5 separate regions of the Homo sapiens genome follow, and all the other regions are linked to region 1. The links come from fine-mapping of genetic effects on gene expression. A gene starts in region 1. Each other region holds a variant in brackets. All regions are shown on one strand. Distances are between the middles of the regions. Region 1 holds the start of SLC5A4 (solute carrier family 5 member 4). Region 2 overlaps RFPL3 (ret finger protein like 3). Region 3 overlaps BPIFC (BPI fold containing family C). Region 4 overlaps RFPL3S (RFPL3 antisense). Region 5 overlaps LOC107985561 (a long non-coding RNA gene).

What was found. PIP is the estimated chance that this variant, and not a neighbour inherited with it, causes the effect. A credible set is the group of variants that fine-mapping cannot tell apart.
Region 2: its variant is the best candidate, but not a certain one, in a credible set for the expression of SLC5A4 in prefrontal cortex (CommonMind, PIP 0.61).
Region 3: its variant is the best candidate, but not a certain one, in a credible set for the expression of SLC5A4 in tibial nerve (GTEx, PIP 0.69).
Region 4: its variant is the best candidate, but not a certain one, in a credible set for the expression of SLC5A4 in prefrontal cortex (BrainSeq, PIP 0.62).
Region 5: its variant is the best candidate, but not a certain one, in a credible set for the expression of SLC5A4 in visceral fat (GTEx, PIP 0.86).

The regions. Positions count from the first base shown.
Region 1 is chr22:32,252,222-32,257,221 of GRCh38, reverse strand. It overlaps SLC5A4 (solute carrier family 5 member 4), which reads left to right and starts at 1,875. Exons shown (of 15, transcript NM_014227.3): 1 at 1,875-2,027; 2 at 3,009-3,080. The coding sequence starts at 1,893. The region is part of intron 2 of SLC5A4-AS1 (SLC5A4 antisense RNA 1); the gene reads right to left.
Region 2 is chr22:32,358,162-32,363,337 of GRCh38, reverse strand. It overlaps RFPL3 (ret finger protein like 3), which reads right to left. Exons shown (of 2, transcript NM_001098535.1): 1 at 4,894-5,176; 2 at 2,177-3,086. The coding sequence ends at 2,506. RFPL3S (RFPL3 antisense) reads left to right here. Exons shown (of 5, transcript NR_104232.1): 5 at 2,499-3,432. Among named protein-coding and RNA genes, the nearest start is that of RFPL3, 2.9 kb to the right of the region's middle. The variant T/C (reference allele first, on the strand shown) is at 2,918.
Region 3 is chr22:32,423,956-32,429,131 of GRCh38, reverse strand. All of the region lies in intron 13 of BPIFC (BPI fold containing family C), which reads left to right. Among named protein-coding and RNA genes, the nearest start is that of RTCB, 14 kb to the right of the region's middle. The variant T/C (reference allele first, on the strand shown) is at 2,299.
Region 4 is chr22:32,364,827-32,370,002 of GRCh38, reverse strand. RFPL3S (RFPL3 antisense) reads left to right here. Exons shown (of 5, transcript NR_104232.1): 3 at 1,436-1,506; 4 at 2,289-2,313. Among named protein-coding and RNA genes, the nearest start is that of RFPL3S, 3.8 kb to the left of the region's middle. The variant T/G (reference allele first, on the strand shown) is at 2,878.
Region 5 is chr22:32,338,947-32,343,946 of GRCh38, reverse strand. It overlaps LOC107985561 (a long non-coding RNA gene), which reads left to right. Exons shown (of 2, transcript XR_001755500.2): 1 at 1-935. It also overlaps a transcript of SLC5A4 not described here. Among named protein-coding and RNA genes, the nearest start is that of RFPL3, 16 kb to the left of the region's middle. The variant C/T (reference allele first, on the strand shown) is at 2,013.

The DNA of each region.
Region 1 (5,000 bases):
TATATCTCTCTCCAAGAAGATGCACAAATGGCTATAAGCACATGAAAAAATCAACACTACTAGTGATTGTGTTAGAAGTGTAAATCAAAACTATATTGTGATACCCACTTGATACCTACTAGCCTGTCTATAATTAAAACATAAATGACAAGTATTGAAGAGGATATGGAGAAATTAACTCTCCTATGCACTGTGGAAAGAATGTAAAATAGTGCAGCTGCTGTGAACAACAGTTTGGCAGTTCTACAAAAAGTTAAACACAGAATTATCACATGCAATTCCACTTCTACATATAGACTCAAAAGAATTGAAAGTAGGGATTCAAACAGATCCTTGCACACCAGTGTTCTCAGCAGCATTATTTATAATAGCCAAGTATAGAAAGAACCTGAATGCCCATCAACAGTTGAATGGATAAACAAAATGTGGTATATATGAGTATTGGAATATTATTCAGCCTTAAAAAGGAAGGAAATTCTGATACATGCTACAATATGGATGAACCTTGAAAATGTCATACTAAGTGAAATAAACCAAAGAGGAAAATATTGTATGATTTCATTTGTATGAGGTACCTAGAATAGGCAAATTTATATAGTAAGAAAGAATAACAGAGGTTACCAGGGCCTGGAGAGAGGGAGGGATGGGGAGTTAGTTTTTAGTGGGTACATACTTCTGTTTGGAGATGATGAAAAAGTTCTGGAAATGGATAGTGGTAATGGCTGCATAACACTGTAAATGTACTTAATGCCAATGAATTGTACACTTAAAAGGGATTAAAATGGTAAATTTTATGCTATGTATGCTTTGCCACAATAAAAAATGAAGTATAAAAGAAGAATTTCTGGGCTTTCCGTTTTTTCATGTGTGTTTTTGGTTTTGTTTTTTTGTTGTTGTTTTTTTTGTTTGTTTTTGAGACAGGATCTTGCTCAGTTGCCCAGGCTAGAGTGCAGCGGCGTGATCATGGCTCACTATAGCTTTGACCTCCCAGTCACAGGTGATCCTCCCTCTTCAGCCTCCCAAGTAGCTGGGACCATACGTGTGCATCACCACACTCAGCTAATTTTTATAGAGACAAAGACTCCCTATGTTGCCCAAGCTGGTCTTGAACTCCTGGCCTCAAGTGATGCTCTCTCCTTGGCCTCCCAAAGTGCTGGGATTACAGGTGTCAGCCACCGCATAGGCTTTACTTCTAACTTCTTCTTGGCTGTAGTCCAGGAGTCTTGTTTCCTGAGTCCTCATGATCCCCATCACATGCTTCCAGGTTGATTCACTCTTTGTACAACCCTCTGACCCAGCGCTCTCCACAGCTCTGCCCTCAACTCACCACATATGGTGCTTGAAGAGCCACTTCCTTTCCTATACAGGCCACCAATGTCTTTTTGTGGCACATGAAACCCACTTCAGAGAAATGTGGGACTTTGGAATCCACGAAAGGCATAATTCACTTCACTGTCAAGGGATATAGCTCATTGGTCAGAAACTGTATCTGTTCTCTGAAGGACCATTGCATTCGGTCCCTCCTGGCTGGTTTCTGGTACCTTCTAGTCTGTCCTTCTCCCCTCCTTGTCTGTCTTCATTTCTCTCAAATCCCCCCTCCACCTGGGCAAATCTCTTTAAAGACCCTGTCTTTGCACTCAGAGAACGCCCCATGCTCCACCTCAAATTCTCCCCTCATTTCTGGCCCTGCATCCCTCATTCTCACACTCTACCTAGGCTAGCACTCACTGGTGGAGGGCTGGGGTGCCACAGCTTTGGAGAAGAGGTTTAAAGGTCTCCATATCCAGGAGCTGGCTCTGATATCTCGCCCCACCTGCCTGAGGCTGATCATTAACCCAGAACTTATATAAAGATGGCTCATGCGTGGAATGGGTATAGCACTGCCTGCAGCCATGGCCAGTACGGTTAGCCCCAGCACCATAGCTGAGACCCCAGAGCCACCTCCATTGTCTGACCACATCCGAAATGCTGCTGACATCTCAGTCATTGTCATCTATTTTCTGGTGGTGATGGCTGTTGGGCTGTGGGTAGGTGGAATCCCAGTGGCTTTTAGGGTGGGCACAAGGTTTAGGAGGGGGTATCTTAAGGGGGGAAGGGGTGTGGTTGTGACAAAGCTTTTCACAAATGTCATTGTGTTATCAGAATCATTTTCTTGTGTGTTGCATAAATAACGCTTACAATGAACTAATGTATTCTCCTAATAACCCCATCGTGTGCACACAGCCAGCACCGGGACCTTCAGATTTACTATGCATCCCCAACACCTGGCATAATGGACAAAGAGTGTATTTTTATTATCGCATTTCTTTCGCTTTCTTTTGTTGTTTGCTCACTTTCTGATTTAGTGAGTTGGACTCTTCATTTATGTTGAATTTTTTTATTTTAATAAATTTGAGACTGCAAATTTTTTTTTTTTTTGAGACGGAGTCTTGCTCTGTCGTCCAGGCTGGAGTGCAGTGGCGCTTGCTTGGCTCACTGCAAGCTCCGCCTCCTGGGTTCACGCCATTCTCCTGCCTCAGCCTCCCAAGTAGCTGGGACTACAGGCATGCGCCACCACGCCCGGCTAACTTTTTGTATTTTTAGTAGAGACGGGGTTTCACCATGTTGGCCAGGATGGTCTCGATCTCTTGACCTTGTGATCCACCCGCCTCGGCCCTCCAAAGTGCTGGAATTACAGGCGTGAGCCACCGTGCCCGGCCGAGACTGCAAATTTTATTGCAAGCATGGCTCAATGATACCTCACATGGTTTTCATAAGTGAGAATAATCAGAGCAGTTAAGATAGAAGTTAAGGATTATGATTTTTTTAAGTTCTTCCAGCCCTGGGTTTTTACAAAGCGACTGTTTTTGAAGTCCTTTAAAATTTGATGCTATAGAACACTTTCCAGCGAAATGTTTCTCTCTGTAGGAGTGCTGAAGTCACCCCTCTCAGCACCCTGGCCAGAGCCTCTGGGGTGTCTGGGTGCACTTGCTGGGGCTTGACCCTCACCTGTCTTCCCTTCTGCTCAGGCGATGCTGAAGACCAACCGAGGTACTATAGGAGGCTTCTTCCTCGCTGGTCGTGATATGGCCTGGTGGCCGGTAAGTGGATCGAAGTTTTCTGGAGATAAATTTCCTGTGTGTGTGCTTAAAACTGAATGTAGGCTGGGTGCGGTGTCTCACGCCTGTAATCCCAGCACTTTGGGAGGCCAAGGCTGGCAGATCATCTGAGGTCAGGAGTTCGAGACCAGCCTGACTAACATGGTGAAACCATCTCTACTAAAAATACAAAAATTAGCTGGACGTGGTGGTGTGTATGCCTGTAATCCCAGCTACTCAGGAGGCTGAGGCAGGATAATCACTTGAACCTGGGAGGCAGAGGTTGCAGTGAGCCTAGATCACACCACTGCACTCCAGCCTGGGCAACAAGAATGAAACTCCATCTCAAAAAAAAAAAAGTGAATGTAGACAACATTGGGAATGTTGATCATTTCTGATGTACATTGGTTGCCTACTCGCTGGGGCTCCTTTCCTAAATCCCCGACTTCATGGCTCCTCTCTGTAATTCCAGGACATTACAATATGTCACCTATTATGACAGCCGGTTCAGTCTGGCACTGAAGGACCCCAGCTCAGCCCCACCTTATATTCTTTTCTTCTGCTCCTTATCAAGAGTCTTCTCCTGGCTTCTTACAAGCTCTGCGCATTCCTGCTTTGTTGCCAGTCCTGAGCTGATGCTGGCCCTCTTGTTAGGATTGGCCTCCCCTTGTCTGCTGTCCTCTTTCAATGCCTCACCTCAGCCCTTTCTCATCTGAGGAGCCTCCCGGCTCTCTCCATGGGTCCCTATGTCCCATGCAGTTATTGGTTGTGTTCCCTGTGATGGTGCTAATGCTGATGCCTCTTGATTCTTGCCCAGTGGGTGTTCTTGTGGGGTTTTGATGTGTGACCCCCTCAGCCAGGGTCCCACTGCAGCAGAGGCTGTATCTTCCCCTCTGCACCTGGAGAGTGTCAGCCCAGCATCACATTATACAGTGGGTGCTTAGCAAATGCTTCCTTCACAGATCTGACTCATTTTCTAAATGGTATGAGGGGAAGTGGAGATGGGCAACTGTCCTGGCTGGGGTGACTGAAGCAGAACAACTGGAAGTTTGAAATGAATTTTATTTGGGACATCCAATCAGACATTGCATTTTTAGGACTGTTTAGTGAAACATGCAAGGAGGCTCAAGCGATCTTGAAGCCAAAAACCAGCTCAATCCCATCCTCTGGCCCCATGTAGCTGAGCAGAAAAAGTGATTTTACAGAGGCCTTAAAAAGTGGGAAGAGCCACACCCCAATTCTCTTCTGCTAGGACTGGTGCTCATCTACGTCCACTCAAGAGACCTCTCTTGGTCTCTGGGTCTTTAGAACAGCAGACACTGTAATGGCGAGGGGATGAATGAAAAGAGTGTCCTGTGGCTGGGAGGATGGAGAGAAACTCCCTCCTAGCCAGCTTGGGGTCTTTGCATATGATTAAAGGGAGAAGAGCTGATGGGAGATCTGGCAGTGCTTGGCCAAGGACAGGCTCAACTCAGAGCATTTTAGTAGATTGACCAATGCTCCCCCAAGACAGGGGCCAACGAGCTTTTCTGTAAAAGGCCAGATTGTAAATACTTTAGAGTTTTCTAGACATATAGTCTATTGCAGCCACAGAACCCCGCTGTTGTAGGACAAAAAGCAGCCCAAGTCCATATGGAAAACCAATGAGCACGGCTGTGTTCCAGACAATGAAATTTGAATCATACAATTTCACAAGTTTACAATTTCACATTTCACAAAATATTATGCTTACTTAGATTGTTTACCATTATTTAACAATGCAAAAATGTAAAAAAACATTCTTGGCTCGTGGGCCATTCAGAAACTGACTGTGGGCTGGATTAGCCCAGGGGCCATTGTTTGCTTGACTCCTGCTCTGAGGAGTAGTGACTGAAACATCTCAGCATCTGTCTATTTTCTTTTTTTTTTTTTTTTTGAGACAGA
Region 2 (5,176 bases), 110 kb before region 1:
GCAGGTCCCTCACTACACCAGCCCTCTGCCTTTCTGTATCGTCTCACCTATGTGAAGCCATCGCCCACGCAGTCTTTCTAATCCATGTATAAAGTGCTCACTGAACTCCACGATCTTCCTGAGACCTAACTTTGATTCAGATGGCTCTGCTTGGAAGCCAGTAAACAATGGGATCAGAAGTTAGAACCAATTATCACAATTCTCCCTCTGGTCTTCTGTCAGTAACATGTCATTAGTTCTCTGCATTGCAAAAAGATTAACCAGGCTCTTCTCTGATAGAAATTTTAAGAAGATATAGCCTCTACACCAAGAGGCACATGACACAACCTGGACTCTGGGCAAACCACCGGGTGCACTCACATGAAGGTACCGTGGAAATTTATTAAGTTGATTTAAGAATAACAATTGTGGATTGTATTCAGTGTCCCATATGTTAGAAGAAGCTATAGAGGAGGTTAAGCCATATGTTTAAATGTGCCAAAATTTTTATTTGCCTAATCAAGAGGTATTGCTGAAATCACAAAATTAAATATACATTTAAAAGTCAATTTTGATTCACATTTAATAGTAAGACAATCTTTCAAACTAATCTCTAGACGTTACTCAATTGTTGAACATTATTGTGATCTCCCTGAAACAGTGGAGCTATAATTTTAAAACTGAATGTTTAACCAAGGGAGTTTTAGATTGACATAAAAATCTAGCATGTAATACACAAAGTTCCCACATCATTCTATTCTCTCACCCTACCTTATAATTCCACCTAATATTCATATCTTACATTACTGTGTTATATTTGCTAAAAGTAATGGGCAAATATTGATACATTAGTACCTAAAGTCTGTCATTCTCATAGTGTTCTTTTTCCTGTTACACATTTCTATGAATTTTGAAATATTTACTGTTATGTTTACCATTTCGATCTCGTAAGGAATACTCTCACCGCTCCAAAAATTCCCTCTTCTTTACTTATGAATCTCTGTCCTCTTTCTCCAGAAACCTTGCCAACTATTGGTATTTTTACCATCCCCTTTGTTTTGCCTTTTCCAGAATGTCATACAGTTGGAGTCATATATTAGATTGGTGCAAAGTAATTGCGGTTTTTCCATTCTTCAACTGGCAAAAACCACAATTACTTTTGCACCAGCCCAATATTATGTAGCTTTTTCAGCTGAACTTACTTCACTCATCAATATACTTAAAGTCACCCTGCTCTGCTGCCTGTGTGGTCTCATCCACATGAATGCATGCCCCCACAGTCTTTCTGATACATGCCATTGTCTTTTCTATGCTTTGATGGAGAACTCCTTTAAATCACAGAATAATATTGTGTTTTATAGATGGTTGTTTTTTCATTCACCTCTTAAACATCTTGCTCGCTTCTAGTTTGGGTGGTTATAGATAAAGCTGCTGTAAACATTCCTGTGCAGGCTTTGTGTGGACGTAACTTTTCATCTCAACTGAGTACGTACCTAAGAGCGCAATTTTCGGATTATATTGTGAAAATATGTTGGGATTCGTAAGAATTTGGTGGATTTCGTAAGAGAAATCATTTGGTTCTGGTGTTGTCTTTTTTGGAATGTTCTTAATGTTAATTCACTTAATAGGCAGAGGCTTGTTCAGATTGTCTGTGTTCCTAGTGTGACCTTGAGAAGATTATGTCTCTCAAGGAATTGATACATTTCACCTAGTTATCAAACTGTGGGAATAGAGTCATTCATAATAGTCCTTGATTATCCTTTTAATGACCAACAGTTTGGTAGATATGGCCCCTCTTTTATTTCTGATATTAGTAATGTGTGTTATCTTTTTTTGCTTTGTTAGCCTGCATATTTATTAATCTCTGCATAAAGATTTAATTATTAATTAATTTATTAATTTAATAAATTAATAAAATGAATTTATTAATTTTATTGCAATTACAATTAATAATTGCAATAACTAATTGGGGGGAATTTTCATTAATGCAGGAACACACATCCAGGAAAATGTTACCCACACTGAGCAATGATGGCGATAACTTTTCAGTTCTGGATAGGACATAGGCATTTATCCAGCTCTCCGTTCAAATACACACACACCCACACACGCACACACATACACACACACTCATGTTTTTACTATGAATAAAATCTATTGCACTCCTATCATTTAGAAAATCACATGATGCATTAGGTGATATCCAAATGTTTATTTACCTCATAACTTCTATAATTTAAACATTGATTTGAACTTACAGAAATGAAAAAGTAAAGCATTTGGAAATTGATCCGAGAATACAGAACATTTCTATAGGAAACAAGATGTGAACCATAAGACTCAATGAGTTGGATGGTGGCAATAATTAATACTTACGACTCAATAATCGAATCAAATTAGAATATAGATTATAGAAATGTCCCATATCTTTCTCCTATGACTGTATAATGCTTTTACCAAGTAGAAAATTCCTAAGTCTACCCACCCAAGTAATTTTCTGACCCTGTTTTTTTTTGCAGTGGCGGCTTATTTGGCCTCCCCAGGACGGACTGGAGCATCAGTAGTGCCTGAGTTCATCAAAGGACAGATGCTCAAGACACCTTGATCACCATTAGGTGGAATTGAAGGAGCCAAAAATGGGCGCAGTGGCTCCTCAGCAGAGACGCTCCTGAATGTATAGACATGGGAACCACTTTCAGCATCAAAAAAGGAAACGTTCTGCATGCCCATATCCAGAAAAATCCCCACTCGCTGTAACTTGCGGTCTACTAAGAGGAAAGTCAGCGGCACCGTGCTGGCAGAGAGGCGGCTTCCATCCCTCAAACTCACAGTCCAGAATCCAAGCTCTGTGGTCAGCTGGATCTTCCCTTTGCAGTGAACAGATTCTCTGCAGACTCCCAGGTCCCATTCTGTGCTTGTTCCCACGTCCACCTCCCAG[T/C]AGTGGCGGCCACAGGTAAAGCGAGGGGAGCCCAGGATGCAAACGGACACGTCAAATCTCTCGGCAAGGTCTTGCCGATTCTGTGTGATGAGCCCACTTCGGACGCTCCTGAGGTCGTCAGAAATGAGGAGGAAGTTGTTGGCTGTGTCGGCATCCAAGGTCATATCCACTGTGAAAAGGAAAACAAGTTGCTCAGCAAGTGGACAGAAGCCAACCCCATGCCTCTCTTCTACTTCAAAGGCCCAAATATCTCCTGACTTTAGTTTCTTTAATTCTGTTTCTTCCTCCAAAATCAAAACTTTTCATGAGGAAACTTCCCTATTTCAAATTTTCATAGGTATGCTTTGTGGCAATACGTGACTCTTATTCACAGTAGCAATTCTTATTTTACTTTACGTCACGTGTTTGCTTCACTGAACTTTTCTTCATTTAGAGTGGAGGGTCTCTGAAGGCAGACACCATGCCCCCCTTTCTACCACCTTGATGTGTGAACAAATAAATGATAATTAAGACAATGCAAGTGGTCAATATTAAATATGTTTCTGCTTCCACATTTTATTGCTCCAATTCAGTATATAGAGCATGATTCCAGGCTTTTGTTTTCCATGTTTGTAAACAAATTAATTGTGCACAGTTCTGACAGCAGATAGGGTATCTCTGCAGCTGACAATGTGATGACAGAGATGCTGGTCCTGGACATTAGGAGGCTCTAAGGCCAGGTGGAGGAGGGGGACCTTTTAGATGAAAGAATGTTTTCTATCCTACATGGAAGGTGAGACCTTAAGCAAAACAATGGTAAATTTTGGAGCCAAGAGAAAGGTATTTGAAAGTTGTCTGTCATAACTGACTGATTGTAGAGAATAAGGGCAGAAAATACAAAGGTCAATAATTTAAGGCATTGGGTATGTGACTGACAGGTGAAGCCGCCAATTCTCATGGAGGAGGCAGTGTGATCTGGCCTAGAGAAAATTAATTGTCCAGAACATTCTGAAAAAAAAAAATCTACAAAATATATTATCCTTCAAGTCAAAAAACTGATATGATCACTAATATAGATTTTATAGATCACAGTAAGACTACCCTAGTCAAGACTAGGGATTGATTGCTATTTAATGGTGAATTAGGGAATGGACATGGACAAGGAAGGAGGAAGAGGGTTCCAAACATGACTTGGACAGGGTGAATCTCTGTCCTCCATAGTTCAGCAGAGAGACAGTCAGGTATGGGTAGATGGATGAGTAGAGATCATGGGTGTCAGGGCAGAAGCTACCAGTGTCAGGGACATTATAGGGGCCCACCACCATTTATAGGTGTAATTCTTTGCCCAGGCTGACCATAACCTTTTCATTTAAATGTCCCTTTTCCCCAGAGTTATGGAGAGTGATAGTATTTTCTGTAGCCAGGACCACTGTTGGAGCCCATGGCGCATGGATGAGGAGACCAATATCTGCAACTCTCCCCACTCACAGAAACAAACACCATAGGTGCTCCATTCCCAACTCTTCTCAACCCTGGGGTGAGGTTGTTTGGTACAATGGGTGCCAATATTCACTGTGCATTAGAAATACCAGGCCCATCTTAATGTCAGATTCATGGGAACCTTTGCTAGAGAGAAATTCAAATTCAGTTGCTCTATGTTTTTGCTACTCAGCAAAGTCCCCAAGCCAGCGGGATCAATCCTGAGACTTCCCAGTTCAGCATCTGCATTTTAACAAGATCCCCAGGTAATCTGAGCACACTAAGTTTAGAGAATCCCTTGTCTAACCCATGACATAGACATCGGGTTTTTGTTTGTTTTTGTTTTTGACATCACCAGGTGATTCTATGTGTTGTCAGGGCTGAGAATGTGATGATGAAGCATCTCAATTTTAGGTGCCAGACAGCAGCTAATCCCCATGTGGAATGAGGGGCCAACTGCACAGATGATTTTTCCTGGTCTGGTCTTGGGAAGGGGGCAGGGTATACAGATTCCTTACCTTGGAACTTCCGCATCCTTGGGTTCATCTGTAGAATCTTCTTCAGCTTGGGCTCCAGTTCCTTGATGTGGGAAACCAGCCTCTCTAGCTGCCGATTGGGCCTGATTTTGTTCCTCTGAGAGACCATGGAACAGCAACAGCAAAGCAGATCCTCCCCATGGGGCTCCTTCTGCAGCGAATTGATGCACTTGAGGCAGACGGTGCATCCACACTCCAGGGACATTGGTTTTTCCAGATAGTCTGAGCAGACGGGACAGCTGCTTGCTTCTTGGAAGAGTGCAGC
Region 3 (5,176 bases), 170 kb before region 1:
ACAAACACAACAGCTGTTAATTGTATAAAATAGCTTTGCATCTGGAAGAGGAAAATAGCTTTGCATCCGGAAGAGGAAAATAGCTTTGCATCTGGACAAGGAAGTGAATCACAAAACTGAAAATGAAGAGTTGTATTAGGATATGGGATTATGAGAGGGTTCTTTTTTCATTAAAATTTTCTTTGTAAGTATATTGTTTTTCCAACAAAGGGAATATAATTTTGTTTTTTTTTGAGATGGAGTGTTACTCTGTCACCCAGGCTGGAGTGCAGGGGTGCGATCTCGGCTCACTACAACCTCCGCCTCCCGGGTTCAAGTGATTCTCCTGCCTCAGCCCGCCAAGTAGCTGGGATTACAGGCGCCTGCCACCACACCTGGCTAATTTTTGTATTTTTTAGTAGAGATGGGGTTTCACCATGTTGGCCAGGCTGGTCTCAAACTCCTGACCTCAGGCGATCTGGGGCCTCGGCCTCCCAAAGTGCTGGGATTACAGGCGTGAGCCACCATGCCCAGAAATACAATGTTTTGTTTGTTTGTTTGTTTGTTTAAAGTAGTATGGTTTCCCAGAAAGAAAAGGTTTTACGAAGGTTTACTCGCATTTACCAAGCCCTTCAAAGCAGTCCTGACTTCTTCATTAGCTTCCTTTAGGCACAATAGGCACAGTGCCTAGAGCCACAATACTTTAAAAGCCCATGAGAGGCCGGGCAGGGTGGCACACACCTGTAATCCCAGCACTTTGGGAGGCCAAGGTGAATGGATTGCCTGAGCCCAAGAAGTCGAGGCTGCAGTGAGCTATGATCTCAATCTGGGCGACAGAGCAAGACCCTGTCCAAAAGCACACACACACACACACACGCGCGCGCACACACACACACACACACGTTTTAATGTATTTTAAAATAATAATTTTTAAAAATGAATACAATTTAGACTTGATCATACTTATCTTTATATCAAATAGTTATAAAATATAATTTTCATTTTTTTTAACAGAAGAAAGGTCCCCAAAGACAAAAGTGCCTCAGGCCTCCAGAAGTCATGAGGTGACCCCATTTCCAGGGAATCAGGCTGATGAAACTCTGAACCATGAAGAGTGATCTTTATCTGGCAGTTCTTTTTTGTTTTGTTTTGTTCTGTTTTGTTTTGAGACAGAATCTCGCTCTGTCACCCAGGCTGGAGTGCAGTGGCACGATCTGGGCTTACTGCAACCTCTGCCTCCCAGGTTCAAGTGATTCTCCTGCCTCAGCCTCCTGAGCAGGTGGGACTACAGGCGCACGCCACCACGCCCAGCTAATTTTTGTAGTTTTAGTAGAGACGGGGTTTCACCATGTTGGCCAGGATGGTCTTGATCTTTTGACCTCGTGATCAACCCACCTTGGCCTCCCAAAGTGCTGGGATTACAGGTGTGATATTTGGCAGTTCTAATACAGAGGATGAAAGCCAGAGAGCATGAGGGTGAGGGGGGAAGGAACCAAAGGTGAGAAATTGGCAGCATCTGAGATCGGCCACGAGCGGAAGGAAGGAGAGAATCTGGATAGCATTGCCTGAGCATCGGGACCGTGATGCTCAGTCTGTTGGGAAACAAAGAGGAAAGAACCAGGAGGAAAGGAAAGGCTGGAAATGGGGAGTGATGCGGGGCGGGGCACAGGGGCAGGGCTGCTAACTGAGGCAGAAGGTTCCTAGAGAAGGTAGAAACAACACTTGCATCTGAGCAGGTGTCTGGTTTACTGGCAGGATCTCAAGGAAGAATTTAATCATGATTCAACTTCAGGGTTGTGGCAAGAAGGTGCAAAAGACTTTAAGAAGCATGGAGACCAGGTTCACTTTTCTGCTTAAATCAAACTGAGCCTTATCTCTAATGTTTCTATAATACTAGTAAGCAACAGCACGTTCAATGGCTGTTATGTTTATTTATGGGAGTAATAGAAAAAACTGTTTTAAGCCGATAAATTTACATCATCCCGGAAATGTGTGAATTCATTCTCTTGGCTTCCTACAGTCCACAGAGTTCTTTGACCTCATGAACATGAACCCTGAAATTAGGACCTCTGGCTTGTTGTCTGTTGCCCAGCAGTCTCCTGGAAATTCTCCGCTGGGCAGACTTCTGGTGCTCTGATGCCTTAGCTGGGTCTGAGCAGGGCTGGCTACATAATTTGCAGGGCCCACTGCAAAATGAAAATGCAGAGCCTCTTTTCAAAAGGATTAAGAATTTCTTTTTTCTTTCTTTCTTTTTTTTTTTTCAGACAGAGTCTTGCTCTGTTGCCAGGGCTGGAGTGCAGTGGCACGATCTTGGTTCAC[T/C]GGAGCTTCTGCACCCCGGGTTCCAGTGATCCTCCTGCCTCAGCCTCCTGGGTAGCTGGGATTACAGGCGTGTGCCACCACACATGGCTGATTTTTGTATTTTTAGTAGAGACGGGGTTTCGCCATGTTGGCCAGGCTGGTCTCGAACTCCTGACCTCAGGTGATCCACCCGCCTCGGCCTCCCAAAGTGCTGGGATTACAGGCGTGAGCCACCGTGCCTGGTCAAGAATTTTAAGATAGAGATGGCAAGGCATTAAACCAAGCACAGGGGGCTTCTAAGCACAAGTGAGGGTGTCTCCTGCATGGGGTGTTATAGCAAACCTCAGGCAGTGAGCAGGCTGGGGGCAAGGCAGGTGGGCTGGGCCTCACTCAGGTTTAAAGCAGCCAAACCAGGAGGCAAGACTTTGCAGAGGAGCCAAGGCTGTGTTGAAATGACAGCCCTGGGCTCTGGCAGTAGGATCCCTAGCCCTGCCTCCCATGCAGGCTGCCCCAGCTGGCTCCTCCACTCCTGGGCTCCCCAGGCTTTTCAAGATGAGCTGGTTTGGTCTTGGGTGATATCAGAGAGATGCAGCAGGAAAAGGATCAAGTGGGTGGAGATCAGTGGAACATCCCTGAGAAGAACCAGGGAACACGGGGGCTCCAAATTACTCTCCCCAGAACAACATGGCCTCTCTAACTATCCCCTGCCTGAATGTGCCTCTTCCTGGAGCTGCTCGGGGCTGGCTGCATAGACAGCAAATACAGAAATCAGAGACAAACCCCGTGTTGGTGGTCTAGACAGACTGTAGGATCACAGGCTTTGGAGTCAGACTAGCTGGTCTGGTTCTGATCCCAGTGCTGCCACTAATTAGCTCTGGCATCTCAGGCGAGTTTCTTAACCTCTCTTGGACTCCATTTCCTCCTCTGTAAAATGGTGTAATAAAGACTACTTCAGGAGAAGGTTGTGAGAAGTATGAGAGTTAATACAGGTAAAGTGTGTGGTTGCCATTCAATAGCTCTGTGATCTTGGGTGTAAGTTATTTAATCTCCATAAAGCATAAAACGGGAATAATAGTACCTACCTCCAGGACCATTCATTTAATCTATTGACCATTATTGTGCACTGTTCCAGGCCCTGGAGACACGGAGTTGTAAGGTTTAAATGAAATGACAGAGGCACCGGGCTTGGCACGGGACCTAATAGACGGTAAAGGCCCAATAATAAAGAATAGTCATGAACTGTACCAAAAAAAGACTATTTCTTAGCTGTTGGCTTTGACTATGATTTCAAATTTAGAGATAGCCTCAGCCAGGACAAGGAGGTGCTCAATCGTACAAGATCATTTCCAGAGTCCCCTGATTCAGAATACACTTCGCTCCCCTGTATCCTGCCCATGGATAGCTAAGAAATAGTCCTTTTTTGTATAATTCATGGCTATTGTTTATTATTGGATCTTTGTCATCTACTAGGTCCTGTGCCAAGCCCAACACCTCTATTATTTCATTTTAAATCTTACAACTCTGTGTCTCCAGGGCCTGGCACAGTGCTCAATAAATGTCAGTAGATTAAATGAACGGTCCTAGAGGTAGGTACTATTATCCCCATTTTACAGTTTGTAGAGATTAAATAACTTACTGAAGGTCACAGAGCTATTGAATGGCTGAGCCAGAACTTGAACCTGGGTGAGTCCGCTTTCAAAGCAGTGAGTATTTACTTACCACAGTATACTGCCTTTGATGTAGTGAAGAGCTTTGACTTAGAAAATAAGGCAAGGCCAGGCGTGGTGGCTCACGCCTATAATCTCAGCACTTTGGGAGGCCGAGGCAGGTGAATCATCTGAGGTCAGGAGTTCGAGACCAGCCTGGCCAACATGGTGAAACTCCATCTCTACTAATAATACAAAAATTAGCTGGGCATGGTGGTGCATGCCTGTAATCCCAGCTACTCTGGAGGCTGAGGCAGGAGAATCGCTTGAATGCAGGAAGCGGAGGTTGCAGTGAGCCGAGATCACACCACTGCACTCTAGCCTGGGCGACAAGAGCAAAACTCCGTCTCAAAAAAAAAGGAAGAAGAAGAAGAAGAAGAAGAAGAAGAAGAAGAGGAAGAAGAAGAGGAAGAAGAAGAGGAAGAAGAAGAGGAAGAAGAAGAGGAAGAAGAAGAGGAAGAAGAAGAAGAAGAAGAAGAAGAAGAAGAAGAAGAAGAAGAAGAAGAGAAGAAGAAGAAGAGGAGGAGGAGGAGGAGGAGGAGGAGGAGAAGAAGAAGAAGAAGAAGAAGAAGAAAGAAAATAACACTTAAGATTTAGGAAATAAATACCTTTATACCCTTGCCTGGAAGAGGAAACCCATAAGCATGGAGTCACGCTAAGTTGAAACAGGCAGCATGCCCTTTTTCAATATTCAGCATTGATAAAAGAAAGAGAAAACACTGGAACTGGTTGTGCTGAAATAGAAAAAAACACACAGCACTTTTGTCACCGCATCAAGGAATCAAGGGGAGAAAATGGTGAAGAAAGTAAAAAACTAGCAATTCTAATAATACACTTGAACTCTTTGAGCATGTCTAGTTAAGAGCACAGTCTCTGGAGTCAGGCATATCTGGATTTGAATTCTACCTCTGCCACTTGCTACCTAGTGACCTTAAGCAAGTTACTTAACCTCGTTAAGTATCAGTTTCCTCATTAGCAAAACAGAACACCCCTCCATAGGGTTGTTGTATGGGTGGATGAGATAATGTATGTAAATCACTTAGCACAACAGTCAGCATATAGTCATTGATCCAGAAATATTTGTTCCTAGTAGTACTAGTATTTCATTCTTTTTCCCCATTCTAAGATCAAATTTTGACCAAATAACAGGGAGAAACTGATCCCAAGAGACATGACAAGTCAGGATGGTTTTT
Region 4 (5,176 bases), 110 kb before region 1:
TTGGGGTTTATCCAAAATGATAGAGATAACAATTATAGTCAATCACCCAAACCACTTACCTTTCCAAAGGTAAATATAATCAAGTGTAATCATTTTTTCTCATCCAGAGAGTAGTTCATATTTCAACATACAAAGATAGAGAAGTGAAATGAATCGGTAAACACTATTAACCAAGAACATACAGATTTACTCACACCAGGAAACACGTAGGTCACATACATATATGTAAAGATACATTTAAAAATAATAAGATGATAATTGTACAAGTTTGCATATAAAGTGTAACTTTGAAAAACTGTTAATACTGTTTCTGATGGATTGTGTGACTTAGTTCTCCTGACCTATCCTTCAGAGTTCTTTCTAAGGAGGTTGTTCGTTCCATGACTTGGAAACAATCGAAAGTTAGAGGCACTTACATGTGTTAAGAATAAATAAGGCAGCTGGGCGCGGTGGCTCATGCCTGTAATCCCAGCACTTTGGGAGGCCGAGGCAGGCAGATCACCTGAGGTCAGGAGTTCAAGACCAGCCTGACCAACATGGAGAAACCCCATCTCTACTAAAAATGCAAAATTAGCTGGGCGTGGTGGTGCACACCTGTAATTCCAGCTACTCAGGTGGCTAAGGCACAAGAATCACAGAACACAGGATACCACTTCACAATTAGCCTCAGGTGTCACCCTTGTGGCAACTCTCCTGTACAGCTGGGTTAAAGAGCCTCGGTGCTCACATGGGGTCATCTCCTCACTCTGCCTTCCTTCACTGTGGGTAGCTTGGGCTGAAACTAGACCTCATATGGCTAGGTGAACTAGACCTGGCTGAAACTAGGCCCCCTCATGCAATGATTGCAAACACAAGGGATAGGAAGGGAAGACTAAAAGGAAGATCTTTGATTTACAGTGGATATTTTAACATGTATTTCAGTATTTTCCAGTTTTTAATAATTGATTTATAACAAAGAATTGAGTAAATATAATTAGCCCTGGTACCTGATATTGAATTTAGTTCCTCAATAAAAATTTACACATAAACAGGGGCTGAATCCTATACCCCAGATGTTAAATGTTACAGCAGCAGATGGGGGTCTGTGGAGGTTGAAAGGGAGTTGGTCAATATCAAGGAGTCAGTGGCAGTTCTGCTGGACTTTAAAATGGGCTGAGGGAGTGACAGGACTCTGTGGTTGAATTCTAGCATGCATTTTAGTAGTTGCTCATTTGAAGTTTGAGTATTTCGTGTCGCTTTCATCTGCTATTACCTGGAAAGACAAAGGCTCTATTTCTCATTTCCTTTCTGCCCGTCTCTCTGCCTTCCTTGGTCCATAGAAGAGGATGGCCCAGGAGAAGCTCAATTCATGCTTGTTAACCAACCACATCCATAAGTTCTAGCCCTTTGTTCATGTCACCACCAATGAACTGACAGTCATGTTGTGTCCTTTCAGTTCCCCCAGAAGATCAATGGAAGGTGGATTCCAAAGAGTGGGCAAGTGAGGACCCCTTCTCTGTTACCAAGGTAAAGTAGCCTGTCTTTGCCTAACATGTGTGTAATTTTCTTGGTTATTTCATTTTTCAATTGATATCAGATAGAGAAAAATGATCAGGTGCGTTATAGGTGTTAGATGATGTTTCCTTGGGGATGGAGGGGTGCACCCCACCCACTGACACCTGATTGAAGAGGACATCTGGAATTGGCAGGGCTGGGTCACACACAGCATGTTAGGGGACACTTTCCTCTGCAACAAGCTTTCCACTTTAGATTAAGTATTTTGTAACTGCTACTTCAAAATGGTCTTGACAAAGATTTTTTTTTTTTTTTGAGACGGAGTCTTGCTGCGTAGCCCAGGCTGGAGTGCAGTGGTACGATCTCGGCTCACTGCAAGCTCCGCCTCCCGGGTTCACGCCATTCTCCTGTCTCAGCCTCCTGAGTAGCTGGGACTACAGGTGCCCGCCACCACATCTGGCTAATTTTTTTTTTTTTTTGTATTTTTAATAGAGACAGGGTTTCACCATGTTAGCCAGGATGGTCTCGATCTCCTGACCTCGTGATCTACCTCCCTCGGCTTGCCAAAGTGCTGGGATTACAGGCGTGAGCCACTGAGCACGGCCAACAAAGATACTTTTCAACAAAAGCTATTGTGCTTTCTACAGATGAACTCTACTCTAGATGTTGGGGCTTTAGACTTAAACATTCTTTCCCATCTTGGTTACCAAGAGCCCCTAAGAGAACGAAAGACCTGTGCAAACAGCCCACAGTATGATCTCATCCTCAGAGTGTTTTCTTTCTTCTAATTGCAGGTGACCCCAAGGAACACAGTAAATGGTATGTATTCTGGAATCATTCACCAGGTGTAAAAAAAAAAAGTGTATGTATAAGAAATGTGGAACTTAATTGCTGACTTTCATCTAGACCATCTCCATGATCCAAGACACCTGGAAAGAACGAGAATTTGGGGTGAACTAAAACTGGTTTTTCAGGTGACAAACTCTTGTCACCTATGTGCAATCCCTGGAAACAGGCATATTCACTTTAGGTGGGGTGGATTTGTGTGCACCAAGGCAGAAGGTGTCTATGTGTAGGTCTGTGTGATGTGTTTGTGAATGTGTGTCTAACACACAGGTGAGTGCAAGCTTAAGGGGTCTGCACACTCAATGAACTTACACACAGTATTGAAAGTAAGACTGGACTTCATTATTTATACATTTTCAATATATGGTCTCTGTAACATAAAATTAATGATGTAATACCATAGAATATTTCCCTAGTATTGAATCTTGTCTCTCAATATTGAAAGAGTTGCTTAAAAGCACATGAGAAGTGCTACTCAACACATGATATGTACTGTAGCTGCAGTTAAAGCATTCATTTGGGAAGTTATAAGACTTA[T/G]GACTAAACTGATGACTTATGCTCTAAACTCAGGCATGAGCTTTGTAAGACAATTGAAGGGGAGGATAAAAGACCTCATTTGCCTCCTCTCTTCAGTGGTTTTATGTGCCTTGTGGAGTGTGGTTATGTGCCTTGTGGAGTGCAGTTACACAGGAAGTTGATGGAGTAAACACAAAAAAGAATTGAACAGGTTAATTGAATCCATAAGACCGTGGTGAGGTTAGTCAATAAGACGGGTCATTTATTTTTTAACTTTTATTTTATTTTTTATTTATTTATTTTTTGAGACGGAGTCTTGCTCTGTTGCCCAAGCTGGAGTGCAGTGGCACGATCTCGGCTCACTGCAAGCTCCGCCTCCTGGGTTCACACCATTCTTCTGCCTCAGCTTCCCAAGTAGCTGGGACTACAGGCGCCCACCACCATGCCCGGCTAATTTTTTGTATTTTTAGTAGAGATGGGGTTTCACCGTGTTAGCCAGGATGGTCTCGATCTCCTGACCTCATGATCCACCTGCCTTGGCTTCCCAAAGTGCTGGGATTACAAGCATGAGCCACCGCGCCCGGCACAATTTTTTTTTTTTTTTTTTTTGAGATGGAGGCTCACTCTGTCGCCCAGCTCCATCCATGTTCCTGCAAAGGACATCATCTCATTCTCTTTTATGGCTGCATAGTATTCCATGGTGTATATGTACCACATTTTCTTTATCCAGTATGTCATTGATGGGCATTTGGGTCTTTGCTATTATGAATAGCGCTGCTGTGAACATATGTGTGGATGTCTTTAGGGTACAATGATTTATATTTCTTTGGGCATATAACCAGTAATGGGATGGCTGGGTTGAATGACATTTCTGTTTTTAGCTCTTTGAGGAATCACCACACTACTTTCCACAATGGTTGAACTAATTTACACAGTCTCTAAGAGTATATAAGTGCTCCCTTTTCTCTGCAACTTTGCCAGTATCTGCTGTTTTTTGACTTTTTAGTAATAGCCGTTCTGACTGGTGTGAAATGGTATCTCATTTTGTCCCACCAGTTTTTTTAACTGTTAAGTTCAGGGGTGCATGTGCAGGTTTGTTACATAGGTCAACTTGTGTCATGGGGATTTCTTGTGCAGATTATCTTGTCACCTGGGTTTTAAGCCTAGCGCCCATTAGTTATTTTTCCTGATCCTCCCTCCTCCCACCGTCCCCCATCCGATAGCCCCGTGTGTGTTGTTCAGCTCTGTGTGTCCCTGTGAGATTGGTCATTTTTAGGTCAAATTTTACATAGTATGTTCTTTATGTGCTTTCTTCTAGAACTTTCTATGTTTTATTAACTAGGCAACTGTTGCTAAAATCTCTACTAAAAGTGGGCACATCTTTATAATAACAAATAGAAGCTTGTAAAGTTGTGATACCTTAAATTTTGCCAAGTTATGAGGGCTTTGCCTGAGACCTGGATGACAGAGTTGTGTAAGAATGTGGGTTCCTCTGAAGACTGTTGAATTTTCTGAGAATAAAGATCTTATTTGTTTCTATTACATAGGGTTAAAGCAGGGACACGGTGGTCTCTAAGGCACATAGGAGGCTCTGAGAACGGAAAATGAGATCTTTCCAAACAGTAATGCAAATCTCCATTTCTGTATTTAGGATCCCTCTGAGAGCAAGCAGGGGTTCACAGAAGGATATAGCTCACTAAGAGAAACAAATAATGGGAAACACAGGTTTATAGCATTTAGAAGAAAATACCAAGATGAACATATTAATATCTAAAGTGAGTTTTGATGAAAACAATATAAAAATTTTTAAAACTCAAAATGTAAATATCAGGACCATGTGACTTACTTTTATTTCTACCAAATAATAAAGACTGGCAATCCTGGGCACACACTTCCAGAGAATACACAGCAAACACAGCCATAGTGCTTTATCATTTTAGGAGAATCTTGATTCCACTCCTGCAATAATAGACTTGACTGGAAAGTGGAAGGACAGAAACATTCCTCTGAATGTGGAACCCAAAATCTGAAAACAAATGTTAGTGATCTAGAGGTGGACTTAAAAAAATAGGATGAAGAGTGGTATTTTATGAGAAGACTTTCAGAGGGCTCACGAGAGAGAATCAGTGGCATTTTCACTGGTGAAGGATTGGGAGAAGAGGCAGAGCCATTGGGTTAATGGAAGGGACATCTGGAGTCAGAGGGAAAGGGGGATCAGAGTGAACCTTGAATGAGAGTCCTGGGGCAGAGTCCTGGGGCAGAGGTTTCCAGGCTGTGGCTATGGAGGGTTTTTTGTTTTTTTTTTTTTTTGAGACAGAGT
Region 5 (5,000 bases), 87 kb before region 1:
TGTGGGTGGAGATATACACTAAAGACTTACTTATTAGATCTATAATGCCAGGGATGAGTTCAATATAACAAACCAGTGGAATGATTCTGCTTCTCTTCTGACTCACTCCTTAAAATGTGTATTGAACAAAGGTGAAGTAGAAAAGTTGTATTAGCATTGTTTTATTTTGCATGACTTAAAATGTGCTTTTCTAATTGATAATTTATCTAGTGCTGCCTCAGACTTGATAATTGGGTTCATCAACAGAGCCTTGAAAAGTTTGGGTAGAGACCACAAAAATGTAGTAGCTATGCATGAAGATTAGCTGATAGTTTATCCGTTAAGACTGCTTATGGATGTAAGCAATGAAAATCTAACTAACAGTAGCTAAGAGAAATAGAGATTTATGTTTTCATGTAGCATAGAGTCTGGAGGTTGGCAGCCGACAACTCTGTGATGCCATCAGCAACCCTACTTTTCTCCATTTCTTAAAATGGAAGATTCTTAGAGTGTTGCTTTTACCGTGTTGTTTTTCTCATCATGCCTCCATCTGCCATCATATCTCATCTGCCATCCAGATAGGAACAAGGGAAAAGGACTAAGGAGGAAAAAGGCAAGGAGATATGTCAGCTGATTGTCCTTTTCTGTCAGGTTAGCAGTGTCTTCCCCAAAGGCCCCATCTAGCAGATTTCTGACTATGTCTCTATGGCCAGAACACACCGTGGCACACATTCATTCTAAACTGGAAGATGGTTAGGAAAAAGGAAGGTGTGGGGGTGTGAAACCACCTGCCAAAAGTGTCACAGTTGTGACCAGTTTATTTCACAGTTTGAGATGACATGGTCATAAAGACCTTTGTCACCTTCAGAATGCAGCAAAGCATGAGAGAGTATTAGAAGGCCGCTGAGAAAGACAAACAAGTTTTAGGATTACAGAAGTATTCAACAACCAACCATGTAAGATCTGAAAGGGATGATTTTTTCAGTTCTGTGTTTGATTAAATACTCAACTGTACAGGAGCCATGGCTACATGGCAGGGATTGGGGGAAAAAAGACAAAACTTGGAAATAGCAGTTGTCAACAATGTGATCTAGCAGCCAAAAAGCTAGTTTTCTCATGCTCTGTATTAATTGAAGTGAATATTTTTTGACTCTAATTTTGAATATGCCATTTTGTTCTGATGGGTGTTTTCCTCTCCAGAATGTTAGCTGGCATGTTTGGGAATCCAGATTTGAATCAGAATTATTATAATATTGAATAACTTTTATTGGGAAAGTATTTTCCAGTGGACACTATTAAATAAGCTTAATTTTAAATTAATTTCATATGAAGTAGAAGTAAATTACTTCTAAGTATTGCTTAAATAAGCTTAATTTTTAAATTAATTTTATATGAAGTAGAAGTAAATTCTAAGTACTTCTATTTTGATTTTTAATTTATTAAGATTATTAACTTTCACAAAGAAATTTTGGGTTGTTTTTGTTTATCTTAAAGTCTGTGGATTTCAGCTCCTGCTAGTGGTTTTTTTCTCTCTATAGTTATATCTACCAGGTCTCATTCACATAGATTAGTTATTACAAATCTTGATTATTGTCAAGATTTGCTTCTTCCATCATTATTAGTTACAGATTTTATTCTGTGTGGTTTTAGGCTTCTACAATGTTACTTGGTGTTGTTTCTACCAGGTCTAATTTTTCCTGGGTCAAATTTTTTTGTGTTCTTTGAAATCAAAAGGAAGAGGTTCTCAAGTCAGTTCTTACATCTAAAGCAAACTTCATGTTTTAGTTATAATGTGTAGCATTAGCCATTTGTGTAGCATTAGCCATTTTCAGTTTTATTTTATGCTAATTCCTGCTACCATTTATTTAGCACATAGGGTTTGAGTTTGTATCATATACCAGGGACTGTACTAGCCACTGGTGATACATTGGTGAACAGAGCTTACGGTCTGCCTGGGGAGACAAAGAAAATAAAATGCTTTTGTAATAACAATAAAATTTCAAGTAGTGTTAAATGTCGGGGAGAAAATGAAG[C/T]GATCCAGGGAGATCTCTCTAACGAGAGGCAATTTAAGCAGAGACCTGAATATGCTCTTTACTCACATAGTTTCATGGTTCACTCAGGTGGAGGGAGTGAAATGTAAAAAGGGCATGAGTTGAAAACACGCTGGGTGTATTTGGAGAACAGCAAGAAAGGCAGCGTTAGGCAGAGTGCATTAGCAGAAGAAGTGTAGGAAATGAAGAGGTTGGCAGGGGCAGAACATAAGGGGCCATTTAGGCCACGGATAGGACTTCAGAATTACTCAGTTGTGGCAAGAAGCATTTGGTAGGTTTTGAAGGATGCTCTCCGGCGTCACGTCCGTGAGCCTTCCCCGCTGTTCACGGCTCTGTTGAAGACAGTGCTCTGCTGTCCCAGGATTCACGGTCCACTGGACTAAGCACTGGTCAGCCAGGGGAGGAGGAGCCAACACAAAGAGTTTCAGTGGATGAGTAGCTAGGAGTTCACCAAAGTGGGGAAAGGTCATCCCGGCAGAGAGGGCAGCATAGGCAGAGCCTCGGAGGAGGGAGGGGCTGAGGGGAACTGGGGAGCCCTGGGTCCTCTGCCCCACAGGCTCCTGGCCCCTCACGGCCGCCCTTCTTGCTCCTCTTTGCGGCTCCATCCTCATCTCCCTGATCTTAGAGACCAGGGCTCTTCCCTTTAACTTCTCTCTCATCTCCACCCACTCCCTGGGGACCCCCACCCAGACCCACAGCTCCAATCCTGTCCACCTCCCAGTCTTTCTCCCCTGGTCTCTCTCCCTTGAATCCAGACTAGCTGTTCATTGCAGAGCCTGAGTCCTCAAGAGCAGCTCTTGGATACCCCATAGACGTGGGAGACTGGCACATCCACGTCCCCGCTGCCTCCTACCATCTCATTGGCTCCTCTCTTTCTTTCCTGTTTCACGTGTTCCATCAGCAATACCTTGAAAATGAAGCCAGAATCCATCCGCACCCACCCCTCCACTGAGACCAGCCCTCCTTGTCCGTCGTCTTTGGCCAGGATGGAGGCAGCCGCCTCCGCATGTCTCCCTGATGCCAGCCTGTGTCCCCGACAGTGGCAGGGCGATCTTTTAAAAACATTAAGTCAAGACGTGCCGATGGTCTCCTTTGCACTTAGGAATCAAAATGCTTTCCTTGGCCAACAACATGATCTGACCCCACCCCACCCCACTGTCCCTCTGTCCTCATCTCCCGACACTGGCACTTGGCTGCAGCCGCACCAGCCCCGCTGCTGTTCCTCCAACCAGACCTCTCCCCTCCGGGATACCAGCAGGGCTCATGCCTCCCTTCCACAGCCCCTGCTCAGGGTCACCCGATCAAAGGGGCCTTCTCTGACCAAGGTTTACAAAATAGAAGCAGCCACCTACTCCCGTCACTCTCCCTTTGTCCTCCTTCAGCTGCCTTGTCACGTGCGTCGCCGCCTGACATAACGTTTGCTTTGTGGCTTTGTGCCTGTCTCCTCTGCTGGATGGAAACCCCAAGAGAGTTGGGATTGGTGTTTCTTGTGCTCAGCTGTGACCCCAGCATATAGAACAGTGCCTGACACATAGTAGGTGCTCAGTACATCCATGTTGCATGAATGAATCTTCCTGCCCAGTGCCTTGTGCACAGAAGGCACCTAGACAGTGTCCGATCAATGAACTGCATTAGTACCGTTAGTAACAGTAGCTCCCATTTGTTGAGGGCTCACTGAGCTAAGCAGCTGTAACAAATTGTGCCATTTAGCCTCCCCAGCTGCACTGCAGCTTGGCCATCCCGAGCCTCATTTTATGAAGGAGACACCGAGGAGGCTCGGAGAGAGATTCCTGGGAAACGCACAGCAGCTGAGCTGGAATTGGAACTAAGGTCTGGTGAACTCCAAAGCCGACATCCTTCTACTGGGAAGAGCAACTTCTCTGCCTTTACTTCTCTCCCTGTGAGAGCTAAACCTGAGATGATGCCACTCTATGCTGGGTGCATAGCTGCCCTGTGGTTGTGGGTTCTCTGTGCAAGGCAGGTCTCACCCATCCCCAGGGCAGAACCTCGGGGGTCCCCGAAAGCACCTGAGATCTGGCCCGCAGGTGTCAGTGAAACAAGTCCTGGTCTGGGTCCAGGAGCCTCCTGAAACTCAGCCTGGCTTCTGATCTGCCATTGGCCCCTTCGTGGGCTACCAGGCAGGGGTTTAAACGAGGTGAGGGTGCCAGTCTTTGTTGGGGTGCATGGTTGGTTTTGCTCTCGGGGTTTGTCTTTTCCCCTGCACCATTTGTGAAGGTCTTTCGCAGCCTTGAATCTTTCCAGAGGCGGCAGGTGTACTCATCTCTTCCACCTGGTGGCTCCCCACCTCCCTCTGCAAACCACTCCCCACAAGAGGAGGGCCCGGCGGAACAGAAGGTAAAAACACAACACCCACGCTTAGTTTTCATGAGTTTACGTCGAACACCTCCTAGCTGTACTCTACTCTAGCAAACCCGCAGAGGGGTGAGCTGCGTAGTCTTCGAATCAGAGCTGAGTTCAGATCCTGTCTACGGGCCAGTGGGCAACTGCAGGTAAGCCAGTAGCTCTCCTGAGTCTCAGTGTTCCCATCAGTACAATGGACACAAGTAGCCTTTAGGTTGTGAGATGATTGTAAGGACTGGAACAGAGCCCGGCCTGTGGCAGATGCCTCAGGAAATGCTAACTGTGATGATTGTTGCGACCATTATTTGAAGAGTAAAAAATAGGAAAAGAAAAGCCGCTACGGATCCCACTCACACGCAGCTACGACTGCTTTGCGTTTTTCTCCCTTCTAATGCACACCTGCTTTTGCGCGTCTCTAATGATGTGCCTTGATTTTATTCTCCTATTGAATCAGCGATGACCCTGCGATTTTACCTGACCTTTCTAAATACCATTTCAGCGGCCACCGAGTTGTCCGGATTCCATGTGTGGGATTCATGCAGTCATTTCCCTACAGCGGGGCATTTATACTGCATGTAATCTTTTTAGTAATACGATGACAACACCAAT